2 linked regions of the Homo sapiens genome follow. The protein of the gene in region 1 interacts with the protein of each later gene in a pairwise test. Each region holds a gene or a part of one and is shown in the gene's direction. Other genes may lie near its edges.

What was found.
Region 2: the proteins of CA8 (region 1) and HSD17B14 interact in binary tests that used the Homo sapiens proteins (3 or more experiments, as listed by UniProt).

What each region holds. Positions count from the first base shown.
Region 1 is NC_000008.11:60,210,685-60,216,407, reverse strand, and holds part of CA8 (carbonic anhydrase-related protein), read left to right. Parts: intron 1-5,723. UniProt on the Homo sapiens protein: Does not have a carbonic anhydrase catalytic activity.
Region 2 is NC_000019.10:48,812,176-48,816,141, reverse strand, and holds the end of HSD17B14 (L-fucose dehydrogenase), read left to right. Parts: intron 1-1,000; coding exon 1,001-1,105; intron 1,106-2,411; coding exon 2,412-2,479; intron 2,480-2,589; coding exon 2,590-2,686; intron 2,687-2,793; coding exon 2,794-2,967; 3' UTR 2,968-3,124; downstream 3,125-3,966. UniProt on the Homo sapiens protein: Catalyzes the NAD(+)-dependent oxidation of L-fucose, yielding L-fucono-1,5-lactone, which rapidly converts spontaneously to L-fucone-1,4-lactone. Can also act on D-arabinose and L-galactose, with lower catalytic efficiency. Does not use NADPH.

The sequences.
Region 1 (5,723 bases):
TCCATCATAGCATCTGTTCAGAGGGCAGCAGAGTTAAAATGTAGACACACACAGACACACATTTACGTATATTAAAATGCAATTTAGAGTGATTTAGAAAAAATTATAATCTTAGGGGAATATAAGTCAGTCTGTCCTTGAATGTTTTACTTGGTGCTGCTCATAGAATTTCACAGGAAGCAGAGTAAAAATGGAAAAGGTCCAAAGAAGGCAGCAAAAGTGAGAGGAATCAAAAGAAGAGAATGTGATTCTAGGAGTTAGACCAAGAAAAATTGAGAAGCCTCAAGAATTGAGAAGGGGAGGAGAGAGATGCTTGACATATAACATAGCAAAAGGAACAATGAATGGCAGGTAGTTTCCACATAGCTGATTATATTGAGAAATTAAAAATTTTGCATTAAATTAAAGAGCAGTGTTTTCTTCTATACCATAAGGTTTATGTATGTAATTAAGCTGCTGAATATTATTGTGGAAAGAATTGGTATCTTGACATGCATCACCTGCCATAGGATAATAGTATTGGCACTAGCAACATTGAAGTTCTAAATCATAATGGTTTCCTATTAAATGCATAGTAGCTGTGATTCAGGGAGGTGTAGACTTCAGCTGAAGTGTAGTGTGGACTGTTAAGCCCATCATACATTGTCCTGAGTACTATTAATAGGAATTCTAGAATAGGAATTCTAAAATTGGAAGCCCCTTCTTAGCTGAATTTTTCATATTATTCCTGGTTAGCATGCCTTATGTAGGGAGAAAAAACACAATTGAACGGATCTGAATGAGTATATATTTCTTTTTTAAAAATTACCTCTAACCATTACATAACTTTATTAAAATTTTTTTATTTCCATAGGTGTTTAGGGAACAGGTGGTATTTGGTTACACGAGTAAGTTCTTTAGTGGTGATTTGTGAGATTTTGGTGGACCCATCACCCAAGCAGTATACACTGAACCCAACTTGTAGTCTTTTATCCCTCACCCCCTTCCCACCCTTTCCCCCTGAGTCCCCAAAGTGGGGATCCGGTGTGTGTGTGTGTGTGTGTGTGTGTATACACACACACACACGACAGTGTTTTTATCCACTCATTGATTATGGACATTTTAACCATTAAATAACTGTAATATAAACAACCGTCTAAGCATTCGGAAGCCAATCAGCTGGATTGTCGTGTTTAGAAATGAGATTCCAAGAACAGAATACAAATACCAAAACATTACCAAATCTAACAACAGAAATTTTAAGACATATTCTGATTTCACAGAGTCATTAAAATGTGAATACATATTAATCTTAGAATTGATAGAACAGGGTATTATGGTATAGTGCCATCTGTGCAAATACGTATGTACACATACAGAAATGGGTTGATAATTAAGTTTTGCTGTCCTTTTCCTGCCCTTTTCTTCCTCCTTTTTCTGCATTCCCTCCCTACTTATCTATTTCTTAGCTTATCTACATTTTCATATTAAATGTCTGTTTTTTCCTGTCTCTTTCAACTTAAAATAACACCAGTGAAATGAAGGAATATGAATGTGTTTGTTGTTTTTTCACCCTGTGGATACATGATACGTCTTCTAGAATATTGAAAACTGCTTTAAATGTTCTTTTCTTCTGTCTTTCCTCCTCTTCATTCCCTCTGCATTCCATGTTTCCTGTGGGTTGGAAAGTAGGACTCTTTACATCCTGACAGCCCGAGTTAGTGCCTGGCATGTGCTCAGCCTGTGGGATCTGGAAGCACATCTGGCCCTGGACAATTGAGGAAGTCTGACCCCATTCATGAAGCAGCAAGTCTTTCTCAGGGGTCTTCATGCTCCATATGGAATCGAAGGGGCTGTTTCCCTAAAGTCCAGGTTGCCGTAGGGCCACAGCATGGTTATGTTTGACAATCACTTCAAATGATTGGGAACATTTGTTATAGATTTTCAATGACTGGGAACATTTGTTGGAGATTTTCTTCTCTGTCCTTTCTTCAGGACCCACCTGAATGGGTCCCCTCTGACATTCAGGTGTTGCCAATGTGATGTATTAAGACATGGGACCTTTAAGAGGTGTTTAGGCCATGAGGGTCCTTCCCTTGTTAATGGATTAAGGCCCTTAAGAAAGAGGCTTCACACAGCATTTTCTTGTTGGCTTGCTTGTCCTTCTGCCTTCTGCTACATGAGGACGAATGAATAATGCCCTCACCAAATGCCAAATGTCTTGATCTTGGACTTCCAGCCTCCAGAACTGTGAGAAAATACATTTCTGTTCTTTATATATCATCCAGTCTCAGGTATTCTGTTATAACAGCACAAAACAGACGAAGACAGCCATGGTTTTCAGACTTGAGCATGTGTCAGATCCCCTGGAAGGCTTGTTGAAGCACAGATTGCTGCGTTCCACCCCTGTGTTGCTGATTCAGTAGGTCTGGGGTAGTTGCTGACAACTTAAACTTTTATTCTGGGAGGATACTTTGAGAACCACTGTTTCATATGTACCTGCATTCGTCTTTACATGTAATTGAGATCAGCGCTATAACCCGAGAATGCCGAGGTCCTGAAGGTGCGTGTGAAGGGCAGCGCTAGGCCAGCCCTGTCCAGTGGGAACATGATGTGATCCACATATTAAACTTTCTAGTAGCCATGGTAAAAAAAAAAAAAAGTCAAAAGAAACAGGTGAAATTAAGAAATTAATTCAAATAGTGTATTTAACCCAATACGTGCAAAATACTATCATTTTAGCATGTAGTCAAGGTAAAAAGTTATTGATGAGATTTCTCTCCTTATTTTCATACTGAGTCTTTGCCTTGCAGTGTGTATTCTGCACTTCCAGCACATCTCAGATTGGACAAGCCAAATTTCGAGTGCTTGGTGGCCATGTGGGCCTGGTGGCTGCCATCCTGGACAGTGCAAATCAAGGATCTTCTCTCTGGGGAGACTCTTTCTTCCCTTTCTTAAAATGTGTTATTTTTAATTGCTTGTAGAGATTTTTATATGTATTTTCTCAGTGTCTTAAGTGATAGGCAGCACTTTCCCTGTGGTTGTGAGCTCTCTAATCTGTAATTCTTTAGTATGTTTAAATCTGTGTGGCTCAGAAACTCTCTTGAGGTGATGAGGGCCGACAACGGCCAAGGCTGAGGCTCCTTTAGGCTGGGGATGGCTTCAGGACCGTTGACGTCGGTGTTACCAGGGAGTGAATGTTCTTCCTACTCTCTTCCTCAAAAAAATTGAAAAGATCGATTAAAGAGTCATGACAGAGTGAGAGTTGGTTTATGAATGAGAGGTTGGTAAGGAAGAGGGAGCATTGGTTTTAGATAGAACATTATATAATGGGGTAGAAGAGAAATGAGGCAAAAACAAGGCTGCAGTACATGAAAGGTGGAGAGTCCTCTCTGTCTATATCTGTCTCTGTATACATATATGGACTGTTTAAGTACAATTTGCTTTTGACTTTTTAATTTGATTAGTACCATTTGGAATTGTGTTATTCTGACTCTTGTTATTGATAATAAAAGAAAGTGAGAGCACTAACTTTTATAAAGAACCATTTTATCAAGGTCATAAAATATCTGTCACCTCCCAAAGTTTCCTCCCATGTCCTTTGTTGTTAAAATATTTTACTGGGTCAGAACGCTTAACATAAGATCTACCATCTTAGCATTTTAAAGTGTACAATGCAGTATTGTTAACTATAGGTACTGTGCTGTATAGGAGACCTCGAGGACTTATTTATCTTGCATAACTGAAATTTTGTACCCTTTAACCATTACATCCCCATTTCTGCTTCCTGCCAGCTCTTGGCAGCTGCCATTCTTCTCTCTGCTTCTAAGAGTTTGATTGTTTTAGATTCCACATATAAGTGAGTTCATACAATACTTGTGTTTCCATGTCTTGTTGATTTCCACTTCTGGATATAGATTGAAAGAAATTGAAGTCAGTATCTTGAAGAGATACCTGCACTCCCATGTTCATTAAGCCAAGACAGGGAAACCACATAAATGTCCATAGATGGGTTAATGGATAGAGCATACTGACTTTTATGTGTTGTATTTCTCTTTTAACATGATGACACATGAAATGCAAGTGAAAATAAATCTATTAGAACTTGGGAACTCCTGAAAGTTAAGTAGCCCTAAACTGCAAACCCTGGAAATTAGCCCTTTGAATGCATTAATAAAGAAGCAGTTTTAAAGCTGAACTTTTAGTGGATAATTTGGTTTTTGAGGCAGTGAAGATTGGAATAAATGTCTTAGACCAATTGGAGTGCACCTGTCGTTCAAAGAACAGTGGCTGTTGAATCTAGTACCTTCAGAAGATGGCGACTTCTCCATGAAATGTTCAATGTTGGTGCCCCGCATTCAGTTTTCTCTTAAATTGGTTAAAAACAAATAACACATACTATGTTTAAGTGGAGTAGCATTAACAATAGATGCAGTCATACATTCAGATATATGTGATAATAATGGTCTCTGGAAGGCCTTGACATTTGAGTTTCATTAAAGATTTCTATCCTGAAATATTATTCTATTATTCTGTTCATTTATCACAATCTCTCATTTCAGTGTGGCTGATTCAGTATGCACTTGAAACCATTTGAAGTGACTAAAGGGTTTTGGGGGTGGTTGCTTTAGAAAAATTGGCATTTCAGAAAGACACATTTTCCCCTCCATCTCTGTTGATGTTGGAAGTCTTCAAAGTGTTGCTGTGATCAGAGAAAAACATTTCTTGTGAAATAGTTTTCTCTGAGAGTACAGTGATTTGAGACTGGCTGGCTGTTGATTCAGATCATCTCTTCTGGAAGAAGTTGTTTTCACAGAATGTGCTTCAGGGTGAGGCCTGGGGCTTGAAAGGTTTATCTCCAGTTCAGAATGCATAAATATAAAATTAACCCAGCTTTAAAATAATCTTCAAAGTCAATAAAAAATGGATTCTTTCATATGTTGAGGCAGTAAAGTTCCCAGCCCACATTGCTCCTCAGTGACCTGTGCATGCTTCATAGGTTCAGGTTGCAGGTATTAAGTATGATTACATGGAAAGCGAATGCTAGGAGAGATGACTTTAAATTTCCTCAGTGAAATTATTGGTTTATTATAAATACTTTCTGCATATACAACTGTAGCTAAATATTTATCTCAAAGTGCTGAAGGTTTCACTTCAAAAGAAGTTGTGCAATAGAAGTGCTAGTATTTGTCAGACACTTCCTATGTGCTTGGAACTATGCTGAGTGATTTTCATGAATGTTCTTTCTTATTTCCTAGGCTATCCTTGTGAATACTGTTATTATTATGTCTGTTATACACATGTGGAAACTGAGGTTTGAAGAGGTGAAGTCATTTGATCTTTTGGGTCTTAGGTGGCAGAGCACGACAAGAATTGGCCTTTGGGTGCAGAGTCCACTGCCCTCACTGTGATATTCTTCTTTTTGAAAAAGCATAAGATTCTCTCACTGACCAGGTTCCTTTTCACTCTGTACTTAGGGAAAACTTTAAGGTGAAAGCAAATAATAAGGGATTCTCATGCAGCTTCGTCTCTAGAAGTTTTTCAGATGCAACAAGCAATAGATGCTACTCGTATTTTCATTCTAATAGCTGAAGAAGATCTAGCGAAAAACCATCAAGTAGATTAAACAGCTGATTGCTTATCTGACTGGCTTCTCTATGTAAATACAGCATATAGGTACAATAAAAAACTAAACAGGACAATCCCAGTTGGGTCAGACTTAATCTCATTAAGGGAAATCAACC
Region 2 (3,966 bases), on another chromosome or scaffold:
AACACACACGCACACACACAGAGAGAGTATTTAGGGACTTCCCAGGTGGCCAGGGAGTTGAATTGCAGGAGAAACGGTGGCAGGAAACAGTGCATTTCTTTTTTTTTTTTTTTTTTTTTCTGAAACGGAGTCTTGCTCTGTTGCCCAGGCTCGAGTGCAGTAGCGCAATCTTGGCTCACTGCAACCTCCACCTCCCGGGTTCAAGTAGTTCTCCTGCCTCAGCCTCCCAAGTAGCTGAGATTACAGGAATGCACCACCATGCCTGGCTAATTTTGTATTTTTAGTAGAGATGGGGTTTCATCATGTTGGCCAGGCTGGTCTCAAAATTCTGACCTCAGATGATCCACCCACCTCAGCCTCCCAAAGTGCTGGGATTACAGGTGTGAGACACTGTGCCTGGTCTAGAGTGCCTTTCATGAAGGCCTCATAGAAACCATCTCCCCCTCCATGGATAAAAGAACTTCCTGGCTGGGTGTGATGCCTCGTGCCTGTAATCCCAACACTTTGGGAGGCCGAGCGGGGAGGATTGCTTGAGCCCAGGAGTTCGAGGCTGCAGTGAGCTATGATCGTGCCACTGCAGTCCAGCCTGGGCCACAGAGACTTCACCGGAAAATAACTTCATCCCATTTTTGAAAAATATGCAGCCTTCTGGATCTCTCATCCATTTTCCTGTCTTGATATGGACAGGAATTTGAGTAACATACAAAGACCAAGGGAGAAGGGACAGAGGTAGAGACAAAGACAGAGTCAGAGACCGAGGAGAAGAGAGAGAAATCCCTTCCCACCAAGGAGAGACTCCTTGAGTGCTGAGACCCAGCGACCCCAGGGCAAACCAGAGAGGGTGTTATGTTAGATGCCGTCTCTAGCAGTCACTGAGATCAACTAGAAACATGCCAGGGAGGTGGCCGTCATCCCAGACATCAGGATGGCTGTGGCTGTGTTTCAGTGGTCTGCGAAGATGCAGGGCTTGTGTAGCTTACTTGGCCTCTTGTCTCCCTAGCTCGCCCTCCCCTACCTGCGGAAGAGTCAAGGGAATGTCATCAACATCTCCAGCCTGGTGGGGGCAATCGGCCAGGCCCAGGCAGTTCCCTATGTGGCCACCAAGGTATGGCAGCCCCTACCCCTTCCTTCCCTCCCTACTCCTTCCCATGGGCCTTGGCTTTGAGTCCAGACAACTTAGGAGCCAGACCTAGCAAGATCTTGGCCCTAGAAAGTCTCACACCTAACTCCCAGATGCAGCACCCAGGCATAACTGCCTGTGACAGATTTCTGTTTTTTCTTTTCTTTTCTTTTTTTTTTTTTAAAGATGGAGTCTCGCTCTGTCACCAGGCTGGAGTTCAGTGGTGCAATCTCAGCTGCAACCTCTGCCTCCTGGGTTCAAGGGATTCTCCTGACTCAGCCTCCCGAGTAGCTGGGACTACAGGCGCATGCCACCGCACCCAGCTAATTTTTTTTGTATTTTTTAGTAGAGACGGGGTTTCACCATGTTAGCCAGGATGGTCTCGATCTTCTGACTTCATGATCTGCCTGCCTTGGCCTCCCAAAGTGCTGGGATTACAGGCATGAGCCACCGCACCCAGCAGATTTCTGTTTTTTCTTTTCTTTCTTTCTTTTTTTTTGAGATGGAGTTTCGCTCTTATTGCCCAGGTTGGAGTGCAATGGTGTGATCTTGGCTCACTGCAACCTCCGCCTCCCGGGTTCAAGTGATTCTCCTGCCTCAGCCTCCCAAGTAGCTGAGATTACAGGTGGCTGTCACCACGCCCAGCTAGATTTTTGTATTTTTTAGTAGAGACGAGATTTCACCATGTTGGTCAGGCTGGTCTCGAACTCCCGACCTCAGGTGATCCACCCACCTCGGCCTCCCAAAGTGCTGGGATTACAGGCATGAGCCACTGTGCCCGGCTAACTTTCTTTTTTTCTTTTCTTTTCTTTTCTTCTTTTTTTTTTTAGATAGGGTCTCACTCTGTCACCCAGGTTGCAGTGTGGTGGCATGATCTCAGCTCACTGCAACCCCTGCCTCATGGGTTCAAGCGATTCTCACGCCTCAGCCTCCCCAGTAGCTGGGATTACAGGCGTGCACCACCATGTCCGGTTAATTTTTGTATTTTTAGCAGAGATGGGGTTTTGCCATGTTGGCCAGGCTGGTCTCGAACTCCTGGCCCAAGTGATCCACCCATCCCGGCCTCCCAAAGTGCTGGGATTACAGGTGTGAGCCACTGCACCTGGCCTTCCTGTGACAGATTTCTATGCCAAGTTTCTCCCAAGAAACCAAGCCTGGTGCCTCTGAAGGCAGCCTTCAAGGAGGGCATGACTTCCCCATTCTGATGCCCCCCTGGCTGGCAGGAGACAATGGATGGCAGGGACCCCATGTCCCGGGGACTGAACTTTCTTCCCCGCTCCATTTCCTGCAGGGGGCAGTAACAGCCATGACCAAAGCTTTGGCCCTGGATGAAAGTCCATATGGTGTCCGAGTCAACTGGTGAGCTGCTCTGAGCAGGCGGAGAGCCTCCTGGGGGGACTGGGGTGACTGGGAGTGATCCCAAGTGGTTCGAGACAGATTGCTTTGATCCCCCCTCTCCCTTCCTCTAGTATCTCCCCAGGAAACATCTGGACCCCGCTGTGGGAGGAGCTGGCAGCCTTAATGCCAGACCCTAGGGCCACAATCCGAGAGGGCATGCTGGCCCAGGTAGAAGTGGGGTTCAGATCCAGGTGGTAGAAGGTGGCATGGGGGTGGGGGGCATGGCGATCAAGTGGGGCTCCTCTTGACCTCCTTCCCCCCTCTTTTCTCCCCAGCCACTGGGCCGCATGGGCCAGCCCGCTGAGGTCGGGGCTGCGGCAGTGTTCCTGGCCTCCGAAGCCAACTTCTGCACGGGCATTGAACTGCTCGTGACGGGGGGTGCAGAGCTGGGGTACGGGTGCAAGGCCAGTCGGAGCACCCCCGTGGACGCCCCCGATATCCCTTCCTGATTTCTCTCATTTCTACTTGGGGCCCCCTTCCTAGGACTCTCCCACCCCAAACTCCAACCTGTATCAGATGCAGCCCCCAAGCCCTTAGACTCTAAGCCCAGTTAGCAAGGTGCCGGGTCACCCTGCAGGTTCCCATAAAAACGATTTGCAGCCAGAAGGAGGAGGATATCGTTATATTTATTTCCCATCCTTTAGACGAGTCCTTCTGCCCCACTTAGCCCTTGCACCCCAGACCCACAAGTTGCCTCGACCCTGAAGGACTGCAGCTCCCCCCGCCCCCCAACCCCAGGCCTTGCAGCAAGCAGGTGCCTGATGTTGCTAGCCCTGTCGCTGTCGCCAGGGGCTCCTGGGAAGGGTAGAGCGGTTTGGCTTCACCAGCGCGCTAACTAAAGGCCCGCAGGGGAGAGTAAATTAAGCGCTAATTAGGAGGTAATGGAGGGGGAGACGCAGAAGGCCCTCTTACTCTTGGCCCTCAGGGAAAAGGAGTTTTCCTCTCACTGCCTGTAGAATAGGAAGGTGGCTGGCAAGAAAAGTCCAAAGGGAAGAGAAAGTAGGGGGTTGAGACATCTGGATCAGAGGGAGGAGGGGCTGAAACTCCTGGGTTTTGGTCCGCAGGGCACTGGGGGACGCAGACTCCCCAGCTGGACCCAGGGGGGGGGCAGGGCCCGGGTGCGCTGGCGTCCCCCAGGTGAGGGGTGGAGCTGCAGGGCTGCTGCGGATTGGCTGTGGCCGGGGGGGCGTGTGCACCAACCGCTGATTGGCCGCGGCGGGGGCGGGAGCTGTCAGTGGGCCCCGACCCTACAGCCCGGGGCTGGCGGGTGGGGCAGGAGGACTGGGGCGGAGCGCAGAAAAACAGGGCGACGCCCTGTGAGGGAAGGGTCCCGCGGTTTGGCTGTTTGGGCCTGTGGCTGTTAGGGGTGGCAGGATAGTGACCCGGGGACAGGACTTGGGGGCACTGTGGGGGTAGAATTTGGAGACAGAGTGTCCCAGGGTAGGATT